Homo sapiens: one gene and its partners. The protein of the gene in region 3 interacts with the protein of the main gene of each other region in a biochemical or structural test. Each region holds a gene or a part of one and is shown on either strand. Other genes may lie near its edges.

Region 1 (7,216 bases), on a different chromosome or scaffold from region 3:
ATGGTTTGCTTGGCTTCACTCCTCTCTTTCCCCCCAATTTCCACATGGGTATCTGGCTAAAAATGAGTTACAGGTTTCCTTCTGTGAGAATTGCATGGACTGATAAAGTACCATCCCAGGAAGAAAACAAAGATGCTGTCTTCCCTTTCGGCTCACAGTTGCCGTTGGGGAGGGAACACACGCTGTAAATTATAGGCAGCCAGAAGTGACCGCATTGACCACTGCGAGTGGCCCAGCTATGGCAACAGGCTGAGAACTCTGGGGGAGAGCCATTTGTTGGCAGGGATGGTGATTCTTCTAGCATCAAGCTCTAAGATGATGACCAAACGGTATCAAAAGAAATGATATTTTGCTACCTCTCCGGCTTGGGTGAATGATGTGGACAGTTAACCTGGACAATTTAAACCTTTATGTTGATGGATCACTTGGATGAAATTAACCAGGAAATTGCCAAGATTTCACTTGGCCCTCTGACATCAAATCTCAATATTATATTACCAAATTAGAGATTCTAAAGAACCCTGAGTTCCTTTCACTGAAAGGAAGGAGTGGAAAAACCTTTCCAGATGATCCCTTTTGAGTCTTGGTGCGAGCTCAGGCCCTCCCTACACTGCCTCCGTGAAAGCTAACCGACCCTTGTTCCTAACCTAGCGCAGGTCAGCTGAGTGTCCATCGGGCACAGGAGCCCTGGGCTTGTCCGGGAGATAGCCAGACTCCTGCTATTTCCTGATGTCTGCATAGCTCAGCGTGTCCCTCACCATCTTTGCCGTTGGCCAGTAAGGAGAGCCCCAGGGGCCAGCACTGCACACTGAAACCCAACCTATTGCTCAATGGAATGCTTAAAAATTTCCTGAATCTGCCTTCCTGAGTTGATAAAATAGGAAACAATACACGTTCTGAGGGGGTACTGAAAGCAGAGTAAAGCCAGGAAGATCTTTTTTTTCTGTTATTCTATACAAATATTGCTTCCTCTGCTTGTTAGCAGCCCAGAGGAAATGCAGCCAGGGAGCCGTTTGCAGCTTTTCACCAGTGGCCGGTGTCTCTGTGTTACCAACCAAACGACGCTGCAAGACTAGTGACTAACGCACGTCTGCATGATTCAACTTCACTAAAATTCCCTCTGCTGCCAGTAAAGAAGCACTTGAAAACTCTTTAATTTGAAACTTGAGCTTGGTTAATGACTTGTTTTCTTCTCTTTCTCTTTAACTTCTCTCTTGCCATCTCCAACACACACACACACACACACACACACACACACACACACACACACACACTCTCTCTCTCTCTCTCTCTCTCTCTCTCTCTCTCTCATCAAGTTTTTTAATTTCAGGGACCCGGAAACATACAGCCCCGTGCATTCACAATAGCATTTGCTGTGATAAAGTGGCCGGCAAGCCCTCTGCATTCCCCTGCTCACTTAGCTGTATGAATAAATAATGAGTCACAGATACAATTTGGGTGCTCAAGAGAGTTTGTAGCCAGAAAATTAATTATTCTCCCATCCCAGCCCACTCCATCTCAGCTTTGCCAAACCATCAAGATACACTTTGCAGGCACTGGTCAGAGTGCGTGCCCCGACGCACACGGCAATGCCTTTGAGACATTTTATGTTATTATTTTTGTTTGTTTAAGCACAGCCCTCTTTTACCACGAAAGATACACAAGACGCACATGCACACACATACTCACACACTCACAGCTCAACCACAGCTTTGTCCATTTCAAGAGGCTGGTTTCAAAAATGGAGACAGGTTTTCCACCCTGGCTGTTCCTATTCATAAGCCTGTAATCTAACGACTTAAGCTGCGAGAATGCTTAACTCGGGAAACTTCTCTATTGCCCTTTTCCAGAGAGACCTCGGTATGCCACAATTTGCTTCCTTTCTCTCTTGAAAGATGCTGGTTGTCTCTTTGCATTGAGGCTACAAGGAAAAACACAGCACAGCCCCATGCTGATGATTTTAACCTAACCAAGTCTGTCAGTCTCCTGTACTCTCTGCCTTATAGAGACAGCTGCCTTGCCACTTTGGCCCTGAAGTCCCCAGGCTGGTGCAAGGCTATCTGAGAGCCTCCGCCTCCTGCCCCACACTGGCACCAGCCCTCCTGGCTGGCTCTGTGCATGTGCCTGCTAAGCCCCAGGGCAGGCTGCATTCTGGGCCACACAGCATGCCGAGTTAAGGATAACTCAGACACAGGCATTCCGGGCAAGGGACAGCAAAATAAAACCCAGGGAGCTTCGTGCAAGCTTCATAATCTCTAAGCCTTTAAACAAGACCAGCACAACTTACTCGCACTTGACAAAGTTCTCACGCACCGACTGAACACTCCAACAGCATAACTAAGTATTTATTAAAACATTTCTGAAGAGCTTCCATCTGATTAGTAAGTAATCCAATAGACTTGTAATCATATGCCTCAGTTTGAATTCCTCTCACAAACAAGACAGGGAACTGGCAGGCACCGAGGCATCTCTGCACCGAGGTGAAACAAGCTGCCATTTCATTACAGGCAAAGCTGAGCAAAAGTAGATATTACAAGACCAGCATGTACTCACCTCTCATGAAGCACTGTGGGTACGAAGGAAATGACTCAAATATGCTGTCTGAAGCCATCGCTTCCTCCTGAAAATGCACCCTCTTCTGAAGGCGGGGGACTCAATGATTTCTTTTACCTTCGGAGCGAAAACCAAGACAGGTCACTGTTTCAGCCTCACCCCTCTAGCCCTACATCTCTCTTTCTTCTCCCCTCTGCTGGATACCTCTGGGACTCCCCAAGCCCTATTAAAAAATGCACCTTTGTAAAAACAAATATTCAAATTGTTAAAGATTAAAAAAAAAAAAAAAGCCAGCGCCGCCTTGGCTGTGGGTTGGTGATGCTCACCACGCTGCGAAACCCTGTGGTTTGCATTCAGTGTGATTCGTCCTGCCTGCTGACCACTATGCTGGGTTCAGACTTCTGACACTGCCAGGCTACCCAACTTGTGGTTCTGTGGTTGTTTATGAGGCCCAAAGAAGTTTTCACACAACCCAAATTACAAATTTAACTGTTCCCCTTTCCACAGCCCATCTCAATTGGTTCTTGCCAATCATGTGACTTAAGTGATGTCAATTTTTTTTTTTCTTTTCTGAGCAATGCCCTTCCTTCCCTCCACCTGCCCTCCCCCAGGCTGTGCAAGAAAATAGCCGAGTAGACTTTGCAAGAGGGGGGGATGTAGAAAAAAGTGACTCAGTCACTTATTATATCTCAATGGTCTTTGCTGATTTAGTACAACTCGGCTCCTGTTGTTATTTGTGGTTTTTGGAACTACTGATTATTTTGATAAAGATTTCATTGCTGCTTATTCAATAGTAATTCAACGCTGGCATCAAGCCGCTGCTCCGACAGGATGTGGATCCCATCATTTAAAATGCTAGGCATCAGCTCCGGGAGAGTTAAGTCCTTGGTAACGTCTATCATGGCATAAGTGAAACTATAAAAGGGAAAAATAAATAAAAAGAAATGTTTTGGTGAGAGTCTGACCCCTACAACGGGCTGGCAACTCACAGGTATTTTAAAGCCTGGGAAAGGGAAAGAATTTTACTTTTGAAATAAAAGGACTGTTTTAATGAAACCAAAATTATGTGGTTTTATTCCCCCTAAATGGACAACTTTAGTATGTATCTCTTTCAGTAAAGAGATAAAATCATAGTACAGTCTTAACACACACACACACACACACACACACACACACACACACACAAATTAGGAAGCTAAAGGAAAACAAAGCAGAGAGAATTTCTGTATTTGGGACAAAGCAGTGGTTACTCTGCAGATGTTTATTTGTATTGTCACTTGGGAAAGCTCCCTGTATTGCCTTTCTCTAGTTCAATTCAAATCAATAGGCTAATTTACACCTGTAGGTAAAACTACACTTTGAGCACATGAGGATGCCACAATAGAAGGGGAACCAGGAGGAGACACTTCTCCTGGGGCTGACTAATGAATATTATATAGCGCGTCCTCTACCTTAGAAAGACATGCCTGTTTGAAGATGCTAAAAACAGGATAATTTTGTAAGTGGGCAAACCACTGTGGTCACACGTATTTCATTTTCCGGCCCCACTGGCTTTACCTGCTGACAACTAAAACGTCATTTTGTTTTGTAGTTCCAAGATGAAGAAAGGCTTATTTTCCTGATTTACTACCTTATTCATTTGGCTCTGCTCTGCCTACATCCGCCATAGCACTCTGCGCACGTGAAATTTCGACACATAGGGTCAAGAGAACCTGTGTGATGATGGGTTGTAAATGCCAGTCCTGGATTCTAAGCTGCAGTAGCCAGCACAGGCACTTCAGAAAGGCTGAACTCCCACAACACTCCCTCGGTTTTCCCTCATCCACTTAATTTCACACACACAAAGACCCACAACGATAGTAGCTTCCATGGCACAAGTCTTTCAAAAGGAACAGACACAATTTTTACTTACTCCTGTTTTGACTAAAGCAGGAATTGAAACTCAACAGACCGCTTTCTCTTACACTTGTGAGAAGTTAGCTGGCCACATGTTGACACTGCTAACATCTAAAAAAGAATAATAGTGCTACATCTCTTTTATGAGGCTCGTGAATCTTTAAATGTGATGCGTGTTTCATATTGCTTCTCAGTGCAAATCCCCTGTGAACATAATGAACATAATGGGCCTGTGTTGTTACCCTCCCTAATAAAGTCAAGCCTGAGTTGAACCCCAAACCAGGTTCATTTTTCTCTCCCACACTTAATATTCCCTGGAAGGGCCCTAAGAGCCGAGGGCTGTAATGTGCAGCTGCCACTGCAGAGTCGACTCACACTTAATAATGACTTAGCAATTCAAGGGGCCATACAGAATATCCTTGGGAGATTTAATTTTAGAAACTCCCCAGATGCTTTTAGCCTTAGGTGTCCAGATGCTTAGGAGAAGGGTTTGGATGAGGCAGTGAACGGCCTGAATTCTCAACTTTTCTCTTTGGGCCTAGCTCTAGCCAGATATCTATTTCTTCCAGTGGGGTCTTTGTAGGACAGGTTAGAGTGTAAAGACACTCTAAGGCTGGGGCTCGTTGAAGCCTCACTATACGCTGTCATCTTCGGGACTGAGGTTTCAACAGGGCACCAGGGGGCAGAATACAAAGGCCTGCACGCTGGCCCTGCACGGCCTTCCTGGGCGGGGTTAACAGCCACGGCAGCCGCAGCATAACTTCGCAGCTTGGTGAGGCAACAGTTGGAGCTTTTCTGGGCACCCTCCAGGTCATGACAATAAGTAAAGCCTCAGCCAGCTGCTGGTGAACTTGGCCTTACCACTTCCCTAGGAGCCCAAGACAAAAGGGCACGTCTGTCATCAATGAACCGCCTGGAGAAATACTTAATCCTAACTTAACTAGAACGGTTTAGGACTCTTTAAGTTTGTGTATTGACCCACACCCTCTGTCCTAGTTCCTGCAAGTGACTCAGACCCTGGGTTTCTGGCTTGGGGATTGTACCCAAGAGTCTGCAGTGGACTGTGGCTTTGCCAAGGAATTGGATGACAGTTTTCATTCTCGCTCATATTGGCTGCAGCTTCTAAATGCCACCATGGGTGGGGGGGCGGGGTGGGGAGAAAATGCTCAGGTGTCTTTTTTAATGGCCCTATGAAAATACTAGAAAGGGTTGACAGATGTTTACCTGCATAACCCTGTAATTAATGTATAGACTTCTGTGTGCAGTCCAATCCAATCAAAGCACCCTCTGTTAGGGATATTCATTACATGATTGCCGCATGCTATCTCTGAACTCCACATGTCTATTATAAAGTAGATTCTCTGGCCAGAAAATGGAGGCAGAGATGGACCACCCAAATTGGATGGAGTCTAAAATCCCAGGAGGACAATGCTACTGAATTTTCTCTATGTAGCGTGGATTTTCCTTATTTTCTAAATCTGTTTTCTAACAGATGTCCTATCCAGAAACTTCCATGCTATGCTGACAGTGAGGTCAGGGATGATTTTTAAATTGGGACGTAGACATCAAAGCTTCATGGGATGACTATAACCTGCTTTTGGCAAATCCAATGGTTTGAGACAGCTAGGGAGCCCTAGAAGCCCAGCTATTAAAGATGTTCTTTCCTGGACACTCATGATGGTGCCCACACAGGACACATCTCTCTTCCGCACAGGCCTCTCACTTCTTTAGATAAAGGTGCAATTCAAATTTAAGCTACCCAAGACTTTATTTTTTTTGAGACACAGTCTTGCTCTGTCGCCCAGGCTGGAGTGCAGTGGTGCGATCTCAGCTCACTGCAAGCTCCGCCTCCCAGGTTCACGCCATTCTCCTGCCTCAGCCTCCCGAGTAGCTGGGACTACAGGTGCTCGTCACCACGCCCGGCTAATTTTTTGTATCTTTAGTAGAGACGGGGTTTCACCGTGTTAGCCAGGATGGTCTTGATCTTCTGACCTCGTGATCCACCCACCTCGGCCTCCCAAAGTGCTGGGATTACAGGCGGGAGCCACCGCGCCTGGCCTCAGTATTTACTTCTTAACCTTTCCTAGATGAAGAGGTATTGTTGGGGAAATATGATTTCAAAAGGAAAAAAGAAAGAAAAAAGGCAGACATTGAAACCAACCTGCCACTTGAATGTTATGTAATGATATGAAGAGCAGCTAGGGAGAATTATTTCAAATGAAAGAGTTTCAACTGCTTCCTCCTCTGCTTGCAGACTGCAGGTGAGCAGTGTCGATGGCACCCAGGAACTTGTTGAGACTCTGCATTGCGGGCTGTATCCCAGGCCTACTGAATGAGAATCTGTATTTTTACAGTTCCTCGGGTGATTCTATACACATTAAAGTTTGAGAAACATTGCTGAGGAAAGCCTTGCATCTATTGGAATTTAGTAGAGAAATAATAACATGGTGTTTGCATTCTTTGAGATGTCTTTTTCTTCCTTTGAGCTTTCTGAAACTTTTCTACTTTGTTGCTCTGACATAATTTTGTAAGCCCTGGATGTTTCTAGACAGCAGAAACCCACAAGAGGCAAGGCCCACGTCCTCTAAGGTAGCATTTTCTTGGATTGTCACTCGGACCTCTCATCTCAAGTGCCGTGTTTGGGTCAAGTTTACAGTCTGAGGTTTGACACACAATGTAGGGAGGCTCTCCCTGTGCTCCATCTGCCTAGCTGGTGGCCATGTGTATATAAACAGAAGGCTTTTTCCTCTGGGGGCACCAGACTCTC
Region 2 (3,465 bases), on a different chromosome or scaffold from region 3:
AATCCCAGCTACTTGGAGGCTGAGGCAGGAGAATCGCTTGAACCCAGGAGGTGGAGGTTGTAGTGAGCTGAGATCACACCACTACACTCTACACTATGCCTGAGCGACACAGCAAGACTCCTTCTGAAAAACAAAAACAAACAGAAAAAAACCCACAAAAACCAAACCTAGACTCAGATGACAGGATGTTCCCGTACTCAGGCGGCTCCTCCCAGCCCCAGCCCCCTGCTCCCCACTCTCTGAGGATAGAGTTCTCTGCTTGTCCTCCACTGTTCAGCCCCCGCCAGCCTCTGAGACTCCGATAGGCGGTGCAGGTATGGGGCCCAGGGCTCAGCTCCCACCCCAGCTCAGCCTCCTCATATGTCCTTGGACCAACCCCCTCCCAGTCCTGGGCCTCAGTTTCCCCTTCTCAATCATGAGCCCCTTTGCCTTCCTTGGCCAGGAATTTAGTCTCCAAGATAGTGACCAGGGATGGCAGTCCCAGTTCCCTCAGCAGCCAGATCGGGGGCGGAAATAAACCAAGAAGCCCGGATTCTTTCTCCACACGTTTACTTTTAAAAAATAATTGTACAAAACAGAATGAATTCTTAAGGCATATCAGAAATGCTGAGTCCCAGGCCGGGGCCCTGCCCCAGCCAGGGCTGGGACTCTGCAGTTGGGAGCTTGTCCAGCTGCCCCCTCTAATGCTTTTCTCCTCCAGGACACAGGGAGCCTCCGGAAGCACAGTAGTCCCCGTGTGTCACCTTAGGCTGACCTCTGTCCCCAGGGGTGACGTAATGCTGTCACTGTCTTGAATTCTTCATCGTTTAACAGGGAGCCCAGTGTTTTCACTTTGCACATTGGGTATCTGGTCTTGCCTGTCCTACCCTGAACCTGGGTTCCCTGGGCCATGTAACACCCAGGCAGCTCTGATGCCCCTGGGTACTTGGAGGAGCTCCCAGGAAGTCCAAGCCTGCGCCAGGAATCTCTGGCTTTCAAAGTCTTCAAAGGCTGGAGCGGCTGCCCCTGCCACCCACAGACTCCACATAGCTCTGACAACCTGCTTTCCTGAACGCCTCGTTCCTGGGTCCTTTCACCCACCAGACCTCACTGTGTGGCCTCAACTCTGAGGCACCTGCCCTCTGAACCCCCAGTTCTACAATAAACGGGGTGGATTCCAAACGTCACTCAGCTCTGACCTTCTCTGACCTTTATTCCTCATTCGTCTGCCTGCTGAGCTCCTATTCGTACTCCAAAGCCTCAGCTAAAATGCCCTTTCCGCAAGGACGCCTTCTCTGCTTCCTGTCTGGACTCTCACAGTTGCAGGTCTCTTCTTCTGGTTCTGTGATGCTGGAACTGTCTATGTCTGGCTCTGTTTCTCCCAGACTGAAGGCTCCTAGGGGATTCCAGCACCACCAATTGGCTGGGAAGACAGGTTATTAAACAGTCTCTCGGATACTGCACTGGGCATTCAATGCCTCACAAGGACAGCGGTCCAGGTAAGTCAGATTCCAGCCGGGCTCTTCCTCTGTCCCATGTGATATCCGAAAGGCCCCCGCCTCACTCTGAGACTTGGTTCCCCAACTTTGATGCAGTCGGGGAGGTCAGCCCTTGGTCCAGCCACTCCCCACAGTCATGGTGGCTGAAAGCTGGTGTGCAACCTTGTTCCTCGAGGGGTCCCTGTGCCGTTCAGCAAGTCATGCAGCGCGGCCTCATGTCCCCCAAGAGTGGGTTTGGATCCTCCTAAGAGAAATGTTCCCATTAAGCCTCAGAGAACACTGGAAACAGAAATTCAGAAATACCGCTCCCCATCTAGCCATCTCCCAACTCCCGCCCTTGACCAGGGATGAGGCCATCAGGAGGTGGTGTCTAGGGCAGACTGGGGTGCAAGGAGGGTTTTGGAGCTGAGTGTATACCGTCCCTTGGTATCCACAGGGGATTGGTTCCAGGAACCCCGTGGATACCAAAATCCACAGATGCTCAGGTCCCTGATATAAAATGGCATAATATTTGCGGATAATCTAAGCCCATCCTCCTGTGTACTTTATTTTTATTTCATTTTATTTTTCGAGACAGAGTCTCGCTTTGTCACCCAGGCTGGAATGCAGTGGCGCAATCTCGGCTCACTGCAACCTCTACCTCCTGGGTTCAAGCGATTCTCCTGCCTCAGCCTCGTGAGTAGCTGGGATCACAGGTGGATGCCACCACACCCAGCTAATTTTTGTATTTTTGGTAGAGACCTGGTTTCGCCATGTTGGCCAGGCTGGTCTCAAACTCCTGACCTCAAGTGATCTGCCCACCTCAGCCTCCCAAAGTGCTGGGATTACAGGCATGAGCCACTGCATCCAGCCCTCCCGTGTACTTTAAATCTCTTCTAGATTACCTATAATACTTTATGGCCAGGTGTGGTGGCTCACGCCTGTAATCCCAGCATTCTGGGAGGTCAAGGCAGGCAGATCACCTGAGGTCAGGAATTCTAGACCAGCCTGGCCAACATGGCAAAACCCCGTCTCTACTAAAAAATACAAAAATTAGCTGGGCATGGTGGTGGATGCCTGTAATCCCAGCTACTCGGGAGGCTAAGACAGGGAGAATTGCTTGAACCCGGGAGGTGGAGATTGCAGTGAGCCGAGATTGTGCCACTTCACTCCAGCCTAGGTGACACAGCAAGACTCCATCTCAAAAAAAAAAAAAAAAAAAAAATATATATATATATATATACACATATACACACACAAAATATAAATGCTATTTAATCACTGTTATACTGCATTATTACTATTAGTAGTAGTATTGAGATGAGGTCTTGTTTTGTCTCCCAGACTGGAGTATGTAGTAGCACAATCATTGCTCACTGCAGCCTCAAACTCCTGGGCTCAAGCGATCCTCCTGCCTCAGCCTCCCAATCATAGATGGGCTCCACCAAGCCTGGGTAATTTTGTATTATTTGCAGTAGAGATGGGGGTCTTGCTATGTTACCCAGGTTGGTCTTATACTTCTGGCCTCAAGCAGTCCTCCCATCTTGGCCTCTCAAAGTGCTGGGATTACAGGCATGAGCCACCGCACCCAGCCTATCATATTTTTAATCTGTATTATCCATGTATGTATTTATTTTTCAAATGTCTCTGACCCATGTTTGGTTGAATCTGCAGATTCCAAACCAGCTAACGCAGAGGGCCGACTGTATGTAGCGAAATTCTGTCAACAATTAAAATCCTCTGCCAGCCGGGCACAGTGGCTGACGCCTGTAATCCCAGCACTTTGGGGAGGCCAAGATGGGAGGATCATTTGAGCCCAGGAGTTCAAGACCAGCCTGGGCAACACAGTGAGACCACATTTCTACAAAAAATACAAAAATTGGCCGGGCGTGGTAGCTCACGCATATAATCCCAGCACTTTGGGATGCCGAGGCAGGCCATCACCTGAGGTCAGGAGTTCAAGACCAGCCTGACCAACATGGTGAAACCCCGTCTCTACTAAAAATAC
Region 3 (7,843 bases):
TGGTGGCAAGCGCCTGTAGTTCAAGCTATTCGGGAGACTGAGGCAGGAGAATCTCTTGAGCCTGGGAGGCGGAGGTTGCAATGAGCCCAGAAGGCGCCACTGCACTCCAGCCACAGGGACAGGAGTGAAAGAAATCCTGCCTCGAAAATAAAAAAAGCTCCAAGAAATTCTGAGATGAGTGTCATGGATGACTTTCAGGTGTTCCATGGACTCCCCTAAAATTATATCCACAAAGCATAGGCGCATATGGAAATTTTCCAGGCCAGCATTTTACCAAGAATTAGTAATCTCCAAAAAGTTGTAAAGTAGCACACATATGCTGAGGGTAAAGCTTCATGATCTTGCTCAAAATGGTACCACTGTTCTCCCAACCAACCTGGATCAGAATCAGTTATTTTTACTTTCATTTGCCCTCTCATCAAATTTTGGCTATTCGACTTCCTTTCTTCCTTTCCATTCGCGTGCACCACAGCTCAGATCCTCACTATCCATGACTACAACAACTGGGAGGTCTTTCTACCTCCAGGGTCTCCCTACCTCAGTTCACACTACAGACCTCTATCCCACTAATCCTTCTGAAACAAAGTGTTCAAATTGTTTCACTCCCAATTCAAAATCATCTGTGGAAGCCCCACCACCGGGTAAATCCAAGGTCATAAGTCTGGCATTAAAAACAACCCATAAACTGGTCCAAATTTTTACTTCAAGTTTTATCACCCTTTATCCTGGTACAAATAAGTTTATGTTCCACCCAAACATAATTACCTGCCTTTCCCCAAACAGGAACTCTGTGCTCTCTTAGAGATACCTCTCTGCTAGGATTACCTTTCCTGCCTATCCAAAGTCATAATCGTCCTTCAAAACCACGATTTCAGAAGCCAGGAGCTCTACAAACTAACCCTCTTATCCCTACCTTGCCAAGTAAGATCTGAGCTCTACTCTCTTTGAAGTTGACTTCTGAGAGGATTTTGGTACCATTTATGAAACTTATATATTAAAAGACAAATAAGGCATTTGTGTATAGCACTATCTACCTAATTAGTGTGAAGGCAGAAATTGCTAATCGGTTCATCTTTGTATTTCCCAAAATACCTCCCACAATTATGCAGTAAATGCTTAACAACTGTACAAGGAAGTAAAGGAAATTTCAGCCACCGTGGGGTAAACAGCAAAGATTACCATCTCTTTGAAGGCAGAAACTTTATCTGCGACATCCTGTATTATGCCGGTAGCTCATAATTATTGCTTTTCAAAACCCTGATGTAGATCTTACCAGCAGTTTCACATTTTAAGGTAAGAACTATCTGAAAATGTTGATAAGCTATGTCCCAAAGAACTATTCCACATACTTTACAATTCTCAATCTGAGTAGCTCCCAATACTTGGCCACTACACTTTCCATTTTTTAAAATACTAACCATTTATGAAAAATGATCATTTCTAGTTGCAGCTAATTTACTACTTGATGGCTAAAAACAAGTCACACAATAAAAGAACGACTTTCTTCTTTAAAAGGTGCATTTTGCTTGTATAATACACACAGATTTGGTGAGGCAGGTAAAGTGGATTTACACATAAACATGAACTCTTGTTAAAAAAAAAAAATGCAGGTAACTGTAAACCAACTATTTCAGGTAAAAACACCAAACGGGGAAAACAAAGATAATTTTGGACATGATTTTTTTTCCCACTACTATTACCAGTAACATTTTAAAGCAGAAACACAAAATCTTGTTCCACATTAACCTACACACACACAGAAAAAAATTTGTTAAACTTATCAAATAGAAAAAGAAGGCAAAATCAAGCCCCTGGAAAATATTTTATTCTGAAAGAGTAAAAATGTCAAAATTATAACAGACACTACTCTTCTTTGGTAATGAAGGTTTCATATATTTACCACAGCAGAGAAAACTCCAAATCGGCAGAGCAAAGAAAGGACTGTGAACAAGACTGATCATTTAAAGGTCGTAAAGGTAAGGAGCAAACTACAAAATTAAATTTTTTTAAAAAAAGAACACGAAGATGAAAGGAGAGTCTGTAAGTCACAGACAAGATAAGGACTGGTAAAATCTGCAAGGTCACTGGAACCTACCAGGTCACAAAAGGTGGAGGTGGGGGTTGCGCTGGGGGGGCGGGGGATGGGGAGCTGCAGAGTCGGTGAAGAACGGAGAGTGATAAAAACATGTCAGAAAAAGACGTTCCAAAGCTGGAGTCCTTGGTTTGCAACGCTGAAATTGGGGTGAAAGTCAGGGAACGGGCAATGAGTCCATGTATTTGTGTTTTCAGGGAGGTGTTAGGGAAAGGTGGAGGAAGGCGAAGAGAAGGCTAAGGAAGCCTAAGAACTGCGGCTGCAGAGTCACGGAAACACTTCGCTCCGCTCCAGGATCACTGGCACAGGCCTTTGCCAGGGCGAACTCCGGGCAAGACCCGTGACCCCACCCCAGAAAACTCCCGACTCCCGGGCTGGAGAAGGTAGCCAAGGTAGGGCGGACCGTCCCCCGACGGGTCCTAGGAGGGTCCAGCCCGGGGGCGGACGGCGCCGGGCGCCCAGCACCGCGGCCAAGGCTCAGGGCCCGTGCCCCCTCCCGCCCTGCCCATTCGCACCCCCAGCCCCGCGCCGCGCCGTCCTTACCCGGCGCGAAGCTGTCGGCTCCCGGCAGCCGGGCGGCCACGGCAGCGGCACCTCCTCCTGCGGCGGGCGCCCTCACCCTTCCGCGCCCAAGATCGCCATCTCGCAGCAGGCGCGGCGGCAGCAGCCACCCAGGCGTCGGCCCCGGCAGCCCAGGCCGCCAGCAGCCACTCGGAACCCGCACGCGGAGCTCGCCGACACCCGACCCTCCCCCCACCCCCACCCCGTCCACGCGCCACCCCCAGCCGACCCCACACCTCCCTTCCTCGGGAGCGCGCCGCGTGGCCGCGTCGCCGGCGCCGCGCCCTAAGCGCGCGCCTCCCCGCCGGCCCCGGCACCGCGCGCTACGCCGCGGCCGCCCAAAGCCTCCAACTCCGGACCCGGAATCCGCCTCCCCCGAGCATGCGCAGCGAGGGCGCTCGGATGCTGCCTTAGGAAAACTCCGCTCCTCCGGGTCTTCCGAGCAGTCTAGCGGAGGGGGACGGACAGCCAATAGTAGGGAGGGGCGGGGCCTGAACGTGTGGAAGGGGCGGGGCCGCCGCTGAGATTTGGGAAGAGGCTGCTCTAAGCTCGCGCTGGGCACTGCTAATTTGACTTTCCGGTCGGCGGCTGATCCCGGAGCAGGACTTCTTAAGGTCCGGGGGCAAAAGTAGGCTGTCCATAAATACTCCTTGACCTAGCTGGGTGACCTCGAACACATTGCAAGAGTAAATAATTGCATTTAGCCATTGGTCATACCCGAAGACTTTCAGTCCATTTTTTATTAATCAAAACGTTCATCTGTGGAAGCCCCACCACCTAGTCCTCACTCACATCAGCCCGGTGATAAAGCAGATACTTATTGACCGAGTATACGTGTCCGCACAATTAACGCACACAACAATCTGACAAAGTAGTGTCTACTGTCTGCATTTTACAGAAAAGTCAACTAGTTTAGAAAAGTACTGTTGGTTATGTGTATTGCTTTTAGAAGAAAGGCCAATGTGCAAATAGAAGTCAGTGGGACCACATTGCTTACCAGGTGACCCGGTTTCTACTTCAGAGAAGCAGAAGCCTTCAGGCATGGATTTCTACAGCTTTTGCCCAACCACCTGACCAACCCCCATAGATTATATCTACGTCCACACCCAGACTTACTAGTTTTCCTTCTATCTCGGAGGCTAGATGTCCCTGCTCCTCTCCACTGCCTGCTCCCCACTGTGGGCGGTCCTTGGCACATCTTTAACTTCACCCTCTCCACTGCCTACAACTCCTCAGCATAATCACGTTTTAAGATTAGGTCCTAAATTTTCCCTTGATTTTAAAACCTCTGGTTCTCTCTCCCCTTCCATTTTAACTGAGCTTTTTGAAAGAACTGTGTACCAAAAACAACCCCAACACTTCATGAGTGTGTACAGAATTCAACAAGTATCTCTTGACTGAACAATGCACATTCCCGCCTACCTCCATGCATTAGTTCTTGTCCTCTGGCTTCATAGTTGAAATTGGTGCACATTATATCCACAAAGATCATTCGAAAATATACATCTGTGTCATTCCACTGCTTAAAATCATTCTTTGGCTTTTCGGAGCTCTCCTGACAAAGATTAACGTGATATTCAAGGTTCCTTTGATGCTCACATGCTCTATCTCTCCTGTTATGAAAAACTCTTCACAGTGCCCCATATGTGCCCACTCATCTCTGCTTTAAACATGTACTAAGATTTTCTTCATCTTTTTGCTTTTGCTGTCTGGTCCCTTTAAATAGATGCAATAATGTGCTTACAAACACGTCCTCAGAAATTCCGTAGGTATTCCCCAGCAGGGATCTGGACTCCTTCTCCAGAATGCATGCAGGCCTCCTCTTCCTGCTCTGTGTCTCACTTTCAGCTCCCCTCATTGCTCAATTTCCTCCCCGTTCAGAAGCTCTTAGTACTCACCTAGTCCTCAAGCTGACACCCAATATTGAACCAGCCTTTTGTTATTGACTGTTTGGTTTCAAATGAACAATATTATAAATAGTATTCCATAACCATTGTTCATGTCCTTATTAACTGTCTTAGATAAATTATTAAAAGTAATAAAAAAGTATGAACAAGTTTAGCCCTTTTGAAACATATTGGCAACTACCTTCCAGAAAGAGCATAGGCTCAGGTATCACATCGCCCAGCATCAAAACACAGCTCTGCCACCCAGTGCCACATTCTGACTTTCACAGGCCCTAGGTGCTTATACCTGTGTGGGCCTCATCTTCCATAAAATAATACTACAAAATATATTTTATTACTGCATTGGTATGAAGAAAAAGATATTAACATTATACATTAAAATATTTTCTTTGACCTAAATATTCAATTTTTTGCCTTCTGATTTTAAAAGAAATTAAAACATTTTTATGGGCCCCCGAAAGTGTTATAAGCCTGAGGCACTGTGTCTACTGTGCCTAATGGATAACCTGACCCTCCTGCTGCCTATGAGCTGAGAGATTTGGCCAATTGCTTAATCTAATTGTGTCTCAACTAGAAAATTAATATAGTGCTTCCACATGTTGTATTAAAAAATATATATAAATTGCTATAAATAACACGCATAGAGCTACTTAACACATGAGCATGGCACATAATCAAGAAATGATTGTCATAATGGTTATCAATTTTCCCACAACACTACATGACAGTATGTGATTGTCCTTCTTCCATGTGCCCAAATCATCATGGTATGTTTTCATATGTGTATGTATGGTAGCTTATTGTTTGTCCTTTGTCCATTTTCTTACTGAGGTATTTCACAAAAGGGTGCTTCACACAATGTAGATATTAGTCCTTTGTAAAACTATTGATCTTTTCCATTTTTGTATTCTTCCATTGTTTTTTACTTCATACATCTTTCCCATCCTGAGATCATATAATTCATCTGTCTTTACTTTTTTCTACTTGTTTGACTATTTTACTTTTTTCATTAAATAATTTAATTTTCTTGGATTTATTTTGCAATGATAATCTAACTTTTATTCCTTTAAAAATAGCTCATGGTATTCCCCCAAACCATTTGTTTAAAAAATTGTTCTCTAACTGTAGTGGTTTTAAAATAGGTCTACAGGCCGGGCACTGTGGCTCACACCTGTAATCCCAACACTTTGAGAGCCCAAAGCAGGTGGATCACTTAAGGCCAGGTGTTTGATACCGGCCTGACCAACATGACAAACCCTGTGATATGGTTTGGCTGTGTCCCCACGCAAATCTCATCTTTTTTTTTTTTTTTTTGAGATGGAGTATTGCTCTGTCATCCAGGCTGGAGTGCAGTGGTGTGATCTTGGCTCACTGCAACCTCCACTCCTGGGTTCAAGTGATTCTCTTGCCTCAGCCTCCCGAGTAGTTGGGATTACAGGCACATGCTACCACACCTAGCTAATTTTTTTTTTAATTTTTAGTAGAGACGGGGTTTCACCATGTTGGCCAGGCTGATCTTGAACTCCTGATCTCAAGTGACCCTCCTGCCTCGACCTCCCAAAGTGCTGTGATTACAGGCATGAGCCACCATCCCTAACCCTAATCTCGTCTTGAATTGTAGTTCCCATAATATCCACGTGTTGTGGGAGGGACCCAGTGTCAGGTAATTTAATCATGGGGGCGGTTACTCTCATGCTGTTCTGGTGATAGTGAGTGAGTTCTCACAAGATCTGATGGTTTTATAAGGGGCTTTTCCCCCTTTTGCTCAGCACTTCTCCTTGCTGCCACCATGTGAAGAAGGTTGTGCTTGCCTCCCCTTCTGCCATGATTGTAAGTTTCCTGAGGCCTCCCCAGCCATGCTGAACTATGAGTCAATTAAACCTCTTTCCTTTATAAATTACCCAGTCTCAAGTATGTCTCTATTAGCAGCATGAGAACAGACTAATACACCCTGTCTGTATTATATTTCCAAGAATAATTTTTTTAAATTTCTTAATAAAATATGTCTACAAATATTTTGATACTTCTGCCCTCAGAAAGTGAAGCCTAGCCAGGCACAGTGGTTCATGCCTGTAATCCCAGGACTTTGGGAGGCCAATGTGAGAAGATTGCTTGAGCCCAGGGGTTCGAGACCAGCATGGACAACGTAGTGAGACCTCATCTCTACTAAAAATCAAAAACTTATCTGGGCATGGTGGTGTGCACCTGTAATCCCAGCTACTCTGGAGGCTGAGGTGGGAGGGTCACTTGAGCCCAGGAAGTCAAGGCTGCAGTGAGTCATGAGTGCATCATGATTGCACTCCAGCCTGGGTAACAGAGTGAGAGCAAGACTCTGTCTCAAAAATAATAAAAACAAAAAACCAGGAGGCAGAGGTTGCAGTGAGCCAAGATGGCACCACTTCACTCCATCCTAGGCAACAGAGCAAGACTCCCTCTCAAAAAAAAATAAATAAATAAAATTAAAAAAAAATAAACCAGTGAGGCCTAATTCTCTTCCAAAAGGAATGTAGGCTGTAATTAGTGACTTGTTGTTAACAGATATAGCAAAAGTGACAGTGTGTCACTTCCAAGACCAGGCCATAAAAAGGCATCATGGAGCCCCTCCCACTCTCTTTCAGATCATTCTCAGTTGCCATATGGCAAAGACACAGGAAGCTGCCCTGTGTAGAGACCCACATGGCAAGGAACTGAGACATCCTGCCAACAACCACCAGAGTCTGAGGCCTGCTGCCATCACCACGTGAGTGAGACATCTTAGAAGTGGATCCTTCAGCCTAAGTCAAGCCTTCAGATGATTGCGTCTTGACTGCAGCCTCATCAAAGACCTTGAACCAGAACCACCCAACTCAGTTACTCTCAAATGCTTAACCCATAGAAACTATAGCGGTAAAATAAGTGCTTATTGTTTTAAGTCACTAAATTTGGGAGATAATTTATATCTATCCAGAAATAGATAACAAATACACTAATCCTGTTGTTCTCAACTTGGGACCATTTCATATCCCAGGGGATTTTGGCAATGGCTTACGACATTTTTCATGGGGGTAGGTTGGATGTTCCATTGGCATCTAGTGGGTAGATGTGACAGAGGGTGCTAAACATCCTACAGTGCACAAGACAGCCCCATCACTCCACTCAAAAAACAAGGAATGATCAGGTCCAAATGGCATTAATGCTGAAGCTGAGAAACTGCCCCAACCTATTTTCCCTTGCACTTTAAAAGTTTCCTATTTCACCTGTACTTGTGAAAGAGGTGGGGTTTGCTTCACTTCCATTACTCATT
Region 4 (7,554 bases), on a different chromosome or scaffold from region 3:
TATGGCGCCAGTACCAGGCTACAGGCTTTCTTTGGGAGCAGTACAGTGACCGCGATGGGCGAGGCATGGGCTGCCGCCCTTTCCACGGCTGGACCAGCCTTGTCTTACTGGCCATGGCTGAAGACTACTGAAGGGAGGGAGAGGAGGGGAGCCAAGACACTCATGCCACTCTGGCTCTGAAGGGACAAAGGCTTCTGGCTTTTGCCCCCAGCCCCTTGGATACCAGTAATTCAAACCTTCCTCATTTCATCTCAGGTGTCTCCTTGCTGTCATCCCACATAGCCCTGGGGTGAATGTGAATCCAGAGTCTATTTTTCTAAATAAATTGGAAAAAACATTTTGAACTCTATTGCTTTTGCCAGATTTGCCTCACCAAGAGGCCTTAGGTCAGTCCAGGCCTCAGCACTGTCTGCTGTCCTCAGGGAAGGTGGGGTCAAGTGGCCATAACCTGTCCCCTTCAAACCCAGTCAGGTCAAGTGCAATGCAGTGAGTTGAGCTTTAGTCCACCCAAATCCACAAGTAGCTGGTTCACATCTCTTTAATGAGATCAAAGGCTCCTGTGTATGTCCTGCGGGGGTAAAGCTAGCACAGTCCCCCAATACTGCCCCTCTCCAGCCCTTTCAGGCAGATTCTAGGTAGGCAGGGAGGGGCCAAAGGAACGCAAGGAGTTGGGACTAGGGCTGTTTCTGGTGGGCAAGTAACCCATCCACCCTCTCAAAACTACTTATGGGATGTCCCCTTCACTGGAAGACAGCCCCATGGGAAAGATCTGCGGTACAGACTCTGGGGGTAGTGCACACGGGGAGTAGTCCTCCAGATCTGGCAGGGTGGCACTAACCCTCACCTCCTTGACTGGCTCACCCTCACCGGAGGCAGGACAAGGGCAGAGCTCAATACCGGAGTCGCCAGTTAAACGGCGATAGCGGCAGGAGGGGGGTGTGGAGGCAGGGGTCACCCCTGCCCCGGGCTCACCCTCCTGATGAGGGGGGGCACTCTGGTGGGAGGAAACACCTTCCACATTTGTTCCTTCAAAGTGGGCAGGGCAGCTGGATGAGGAGGAACAGCAGGTTTGTTCACTGGAAGCAGTCAAGGGGCGGCCTGGGGCCACAGTATAAGGGGGGGGTGGTGTGCCTGGGCGGTGAACCACATCCTCGTAGGCTGGGGGCTTGAAGGTGCTGAGGAAGCCTGCAGGGGAGAAAATTGGCATGATTGGTTGAAGACAACCAGGTATAGGGTGCTAGTTTTTATATTAGGGAAAAATACTTTGAAATGTGTGGAAAAGGGAATGTGAGACGATTTGGGGTTCTGGTTTGGGGAGGGCCACTGGTAGCTGACCCAGGGCATCAAGTCACTCACGAAGGTCAAGCAGTGAACCGGTAGGGAAAGGACCAGCCCCATGGCATGCCCCATGATAGGCCAACAAGTTGATTTCACGCTGCCGCTGCTGTTGTTGCAGCCTGAGTTTAGCTCGTCGGTGGCGGAAGGCGCAACAGCAGCTAAAGAGGATGAGGACAGTCCAGAGCAGCCAGAACCCTGCAAGAGGCAAGGAGGGAGCAACTCAGGCATCTTTCATGCAGAGAAGGGGCCCTGAAGGCCGAAATTCTGAGGTCCAAGGGAGGGTGGACACAGGGACCTGGAAATAGCCCTCTTGGAGACTTACACCAGAGCTCATAGTAGTAGGTGCAGCAGCCAGTCTCCCCGCAGCAGTGACCACTCTCACAGAGGTAGGGCTGGTTGTTCACTCCTGGGCACAGCTCTCGAAGCTGCGGGCAAGGAGGCACTTAGAACTAAGGGGGATTCCAGCCCAGGGCACTGTCCACCCCCACCTCCTGCATGCACATACACAATCCCACCCTGTGAACCAAGTTCAGCTTGGAGAGATGGGGGAAGTGGAGGATGCTGAGAGGAGTGTTGAAATATCTGAAGGGCTGTCAACGTGGAAGAGGATTTGGAATAGCAAGAATCAGTCTAGAGAACAAGACAAAAGTGTGGACATACAAAGAGGGAGATTTCAGCTCTGCATATATGAGACTTCCTTCACACTCAAGCCTCACTCTCCCCAACCCCCCTACCCCCATCCCCTCGGTGCTTTCTGTTAAGGGAGTGTTTTGGCAGAAGCCAGAAGACAGTCTGAGATAATCTCAGTCTCAGACAACGGGTAGCGGTAGGTCATTTCCAAAGCAAGTTGCTTTCATTATCCTGCGCGGTTCACTACCCCCCACCCGCAACTGGATCTTTCCACCCCTGGGCCTCAGGCTCCCTAGGATAGAGGAGGGGCAGTGTGAGACCCAGAGCAGTGCTCCCAACCAGATGGGATTGCTGTGGATGATAAAGGATGGCATCCAGGGCGCGAGTCTGGGTTCCAGCTCTTCTCCAAATTGCTCCCTCAAGAGAAGACGCTGCCGGACTCTGTTGTGACAATAGGCACATAGAAAAAGATCACAAATAACTGTTGCAAGACAGAGGGAGCCTCCCTGGGACCTCACTATGCCTCTGGTCACTGGAGAGCCACCGCAAGCTTCCACTGCAGCCATGGGATGGGTTCTATGAGGCTACAGGCAAAGTCAGCTGCATCTACGTTACAAAGTTTAGACAAAGAGTGGAAGAGACATGTTTAGGAACTTCACAGTACCTTTGGCTCCGTGAGTTCCTCCCCCACCCCCAAAAGGAAGGGACAAGGAAAGGGGAAAGAGACAAATGGCTGTCGTGATAGGTTTTGGAGCTATTGGGATACCTGCTGTTGCGGCGCCCGAAGTGCCCCCCAGGCCTCCTCGCTGCCGTTCCCGCTGCTGGCCCGAGCCATACCTCCACCTACAGCCCCCTGAGGACCACAGCCTCCTCTACCGCCAGCCGCCCCGCCCCTGCCACCTCTGCTGCCACCGCCATGGTCCCTGCCCGGCCCATCTTCGCTGAGGCCACCATCACTCCGCGGCCGGAGCTTCCATCCGGGCAGAACTCCACCAACTAGGACTCAGATTGCTCTGCCCTACCAATCATCATCGTCCCTTGACGGACGGGCCAATAGGAACAGATCAGAGGTTTCTCCCTGTGACCAATCCACAGCAGCGCCTCCGCCGCTCACCCAGACAACAAGAGCTTGTACAGACAAAGAGTAGGTGAAGGTTCGACCCACGGCCCTGACTGACAGCGGCAATAGCCAATACAGACAACAGAACAGGCTCTGGCATATCAACCAACGAACAGCCGCCCCGAAGAGCAAGGTTGCCGCTGATTGGCTTGCGGTATGTTTTCGGAATGACGCCAAAGGCCGAAGCACGCCAGGTAATCCCGGCTGGAAGAGGCGGAGTCCCAAAAGTCGGTCCGCTGGTTTGCAGCCTGGTTTTTTGCGGTGGTTTCCAAGCCCCAGGCATCGACGCAAGCTCCGACAGGGGCAAAATACGTGTATACCGGAGACTGGTCTGCCCACAACATCCCACTCCCCCAGTTCTGTACAAGCCGAAGCACCGGATGTAATTTAATAGGGTGGGGAAGATACTCAAGAGCGGGCATGGGACGGGGCGCAGAGTCCGGGTTAAGGGCCTTACGTAGCCAAAAGGGGGGATCCAGGACCCTCGGGCCCCCCCAGCCGCATCTGCAGGTTGATGCGGTAGCACTGAAGACTACAGAGTGCCTGGCCTGTGCGGGAGCAAGCGTAGCGGCGCGGATGGGGACAGCCGGGGACAGAGCAGCGCGGCGGCGGGCCTGAGGGGGATGGCCGCTGAGACACTGCCGTGGGGGCGGGGACGCCAGGTGGGAAGGAAAGGGTGGAACCCTGTGCTCCGCTGCAGTAGCGCACCATGGGGGCCGGAGCCGCAGCCCGCCCTCCCCGCCGCTCGCCCCGTGCGCCCCCCCGGCCTCCCCGCCCACTGGTCGCCGCAGTCTTGGTGAGGCGCTCGATAGTCTGGTTCTTGTGCTCTTCTGCCCGCCGCGCCGCCTGGAGCCGCCGCTTCCGCGCCCGCTCCTCGCGCTTCAGCAGCATCTCCTCTGTGAGGGCGGGAGGTGGGCAGCCCTCAGCTACAGGCAGCGGCAGCATAGGGGAAGGTTGACTCCGCGCCTTCTGGAGCAGAGCTCGCTAGGGAGAGACAGAGACGGGGTGCTGTCTGAAAATGGAGGAAGATGGAGAGGCGAGGTCGGCCAGATCGGGGGAGGGGAAAGAAGGGACATGGAAGGCAGGGTCTTGAGCAGTGCAGGCCTTCGGAGGCGGGATATTAATTAATGAGCACCCTCTCCAGGACACCTTCCATAGGTTCCTCTTCATAAATACTGCCTCCTCCCAGATCTCCTGACATTTAGCTTTAGGTCCTTATCTCTCAAGGGGAGAAGCATCAGTAATGTTACCTGCCTGACCTGTGCACCAAAACTGTACCAGCTTTCCCAGAGGTCTGTTGTTATTTTTAATCTTATCTCAATAGAGAGTATCAGGTGGATAACTGCTCAAGCCAAAATCCCAGGCTTAGCCTTGATATATTTTCTCTCCATTCCCCTCCCCACAAGTATCTACTTCCAAAATATAGCCATAATTCATCTGATTTTCTCCATCTCCACCACTTTCGTCTTGGTTAAAGCAACCACTGCCTCTCAGCTGATTACTTCAACAGCTTCCTAGTTGTTCTCCATACTTCTATCTCTTGTCTCCACGAAGATTCATTCTCTACAAAGATGCCAAAGTAATCTATTGAAATGTAAACCAAGTATGTCACTTCTCTGCGTACAGCCCTTCAGTGGCTTGTCCACTTTTTCTTCTCCTTTGCTAGACATGTTCCAGTCTCAAGGTCTGTGCGCCTGCTGGTCTCTGCTCAAAAGCTCTTCTGGTATTGCAAATGTTATCTCTTCAAAGAAGCCTTCTCTAACTACCCTAATGTCTCTCTTCCATCATTTCTATCTGTTTGTTTACGCCACTTTCTATTTCATCACCCTTTTCTTTTTGTCATAAACCATATAGCTTTTTGAAATTATTTACTTATTTACTTCCCAGCCCCCCAACACACACACTAGAATACTAGCTCCAGGAGAACAGAAACTTTGTCTTTTCTCTACTATCGATATCCCCAATGCCACGCAAAGTGCGTGGGTCGTGGAGAGTTCTCAATACTGTATACATTTGGTGAGTGAATAAACAATGAACCAACATACCTGTCGAGCAGTAAGCAGCCGCTCATTGATCTCCTTCTTGAGGTCTCCATTGTCATCCAGCTCCCCCTTCTCCAGGGCATCCAGCCACCTCTGTTCCTCCTCTTCCTCCTGACCCCCTAACCCTCCTGATAGGTCCCGAAGTGGAGAGGGAGAGAGATTACTGTCTTCATCTGGGAAGGAAGTTGGAGAAAGAAAAACAGAATTGTTCAGATGGGGCACCCTAATTTGGCTGAGTTAATACTGGGACATGGAAAATCCTAACCCATTTCAGAACCAACCTTCTTTCTTTAGGCGGGTATAATAAGAAACCCAGTTTCCCCACCTCCAGATCCTCACCCAGCCAGGCACGGTACTGCTCAAGGGGGACTCCTTCCATAGGTTCCTCTTCATTATCCACAACCATAAGGGGAGAGGGTGAGCGAGGCCCCTCTGGGATCACAGTGAAGGTAGGAACACTGCAGAGAAGCAACACTACTCTTTAAAATGAGCAAGCGTCTCCTCCTCCTACTCCGTAGCTACACCCAACTTTCCCCACCCTCTTAGACTCTTGCTGCCTAAATCTGGACCCTGAAGTCACAGTGTCCATTCGGTCTTCTAGAAAGCCCAGTCGGCTTCTAACTACTATCTCTGCTCCTAAAGTTCCCCTTATAAAACTATGACCCTCTTGGCCTCACCTCTTGGTCCCCAGGACTTGTCCCCCAAGCTTGATTTTGAGTTTGAGCTGAGGCTTGGCAGGGGACGGCTGCGTGGGCCCGGCGTCTTCTTCCTGATGGTGTTTCTTCTTGTGTTTCTTCTTGTGCTTCTTGTGTTTTTTCTTGTGCACTCCATGGCCATGGGCACCCGCCAGGCTCAACTCCAGGGCTTCTCCTGTGGAAGGAAAGCCTGTCGACAGTGTTTGGCCGGAGGGTGGCAGGGGAAGCCCTGAATAACCTAAGCCCCTACTGGATCCCACCCTTCCCGCAGTACTCGCTGTTACCATAACAACAGCACCGCCTTTCTCCTTGCCACCTGTGGCCGAAGTACCCTGGACTCTCCGAGGAGCAAGAACGGGACTTCTTTTCTAACACGACCTAAATTGCTTGATCTATTCGCGCTTACCCGGCTCAGGGGCCTCCATAGCCCCAGAGGTGCTCCCACGCCGCCACAGCTTACTCATGAGGTCCTGCGAGGAAAGGGGACTAGAAATGGTTGGGACACACGCAGACACGCCTTTTCCGCCCCGCGGAAAAACTGGAGCCAGCAAAACAACCAGTTACTTCCGGTTCATGGCAACCATCCTTGTGCGGGGCACGCTTCGCGTCCAAAATCGTCCCTGAGAAACGAGGATCCTTCCAACGAACGTTCCGGTCCCTCTGAGGTCGGGACAGCCCAAATGGGCAGGGCTTTCCCCTGGCTCCGCCTCCCCACGCTAGCTTTCAGAACTCAGCGCGGATGAGTCAATTATTGAACACAAGTTTGGTGAATGTATACACTAGACCAAGTGCGGGAAGCTAGTCTAAGAGGATGCAAAGATGAATATGAACACCGCCCCTGTCCTTGAGGAACTCACAGTTGGGTGGAGGAATACATAAACTATATTGATGACAAAATGGCCGAAATGGTTAAACAGCACGAGTGCCCTAAGAGCAGATGCAGTTTAGGTATTTAAACTTCAATTTTCATAAGTAGGGAAATGAATAAATGAATTACGGTGCAGCTGTACAATGCGGAACACCATATTGCTAAGAAAAGTTGAGTTGTAAGTAATTAATGAGATTGACACAGAATTTAAACAATCTAAGTGTCCTGATGAATTGGTGTATCCATACAGTGGGATGTTAAGCAGCTTGGAAAAGAAATGAGGCGCCCCAGAAGGCTATCTAGGAAATTGGTAAGAGTCATTTGCTGATGAGCATCTAGAGAACAAGGGTGGATGGCGACCTATTTTTTTATGATTATACCCTCTTGTGCCTTTTGAATTTTGTATAAAACGTGTATATTTTACCTCATTTTAAAAAAGACATAAAAACAGGTAGGTTTGTATGTGCTGATACACGAAATAAGAAAAGTAAATTTCCCATCCTGGCTAATACGATGAAACCCCGTCTCTACTAAAAATACAAAAAAAAAAAAAAAAATTAGCCGGCGTGATGGCACGCGCCTGTAGTCCCAGCTACTCGGGAGGCTGAGGCAGGAGAATCGCTTGAACCCGGGAGGTGGAGGTCGCAGTGAGCCGAGATCGCGCCACTGCACTCCAGCCTGGTCGACAGAGCGGGACTCCGTCTCAAAAAAAAGAAAAAAAAAAAAAAGTAAATTTCAAGATTATGTGATCTGATTTTTAAAAGCATAATATACTAGCAAATACATAGAAAAAATTGAGGAATGTATACCTGTTAATGTTGGTTAACTGTAGAAGTTGGGGTTGAGGAACTTTCACTATTT

What was found.
Region 1: the proteins of WWP1 (region 3) and RUNX1 form a complex in vitro, tested with the Homo sapiens proteins (one study listed by BioGRID).
Region 2: the proteins of WWP1 (region 3) and ARRDC2 form a complex in vitro, tested with the Homo sapiens proteins (one study listed by BioGRID).
Region 4: the proteins of WWP1 (region 3) and WBP1 interact in a test that uses a peptide from one of them, tested with the Homo sapiens proteins (one study listed by BioGRID).

The regions. Positions count from the first base shown.
Region 1 is NC_000021.9:35,046,289-35,053,504, forward strand, and holds the start of RUNX1 (runt-related transcription factor 1), read right to left. Parts: upstream 3,015-7,216; 5' UTR 2,880-3,014; exon of another isoform or gene 2,671-2,879; 5' UTR 2,612-2,670; coding exon 2,554-2,611; intron 1-2,553.
Region 2 is NC_000019.10:18,011,170-18,014,634, reverse strand, and holds the end of ARRDC2 (arrestin domain-containing protein 2), read right to left. Parts: intron 1,723-3,465; coding exon 1,669-1,722; 3' UTR 533-1,668; downstream 1-532.
Region 3 is NC_000008.11:86,337,723-86,345,565, reverse strand, and holds the start of WWP1 (NEDD4-like E3 ubiquitin-protein ligase WWP1), read right to left. Parts: upstream 3,020-7,843; 5' UTR 2,636-3,019; exon of another isoform or gene 2,290-2,635; intron 1,977-2,289; exon of another isoform or gene 1,906-1,976; intron 1,294-1,905; exon of another isoform or gene 1,132-1,293; intron 1-1,131. UniProt on the Homo sapiens protein: E3 ubiquitin-protein ligase which accepts ubiquitin from an E2 ubiquitin-conjugating enzyme in the form of a thioester and then directly transfers the ubiquitin to targeted substrates.
Region 4 is NC_000002.12:74,453,852-74,461,405, reverse strand, and holds WBP1 (WW domain-binding protein 1), read right to left. Parts: upstream 2,969-7,554; 5' UTR 2,804-2,968; coding exon 2,735-2,803; intron 1,764-2,734; coding exon 1,661-1,763; intron 1,534-1,660; coding exon 1,357-1,533; intron 1,186-1,356; coding exon 725-1,185; 3' UTR 525-724; downstream 1-524. Other genes in the region: MOGS (mannosyl-oligosaccharide glucosidase), read left to right, coding at 1-131; INO80B (INO80 complex subunit B), read right to left, coding at 3,542-4,072, 5,134-5,303, 5,470-5,588, 5,808-6,000, 6,232-6,289.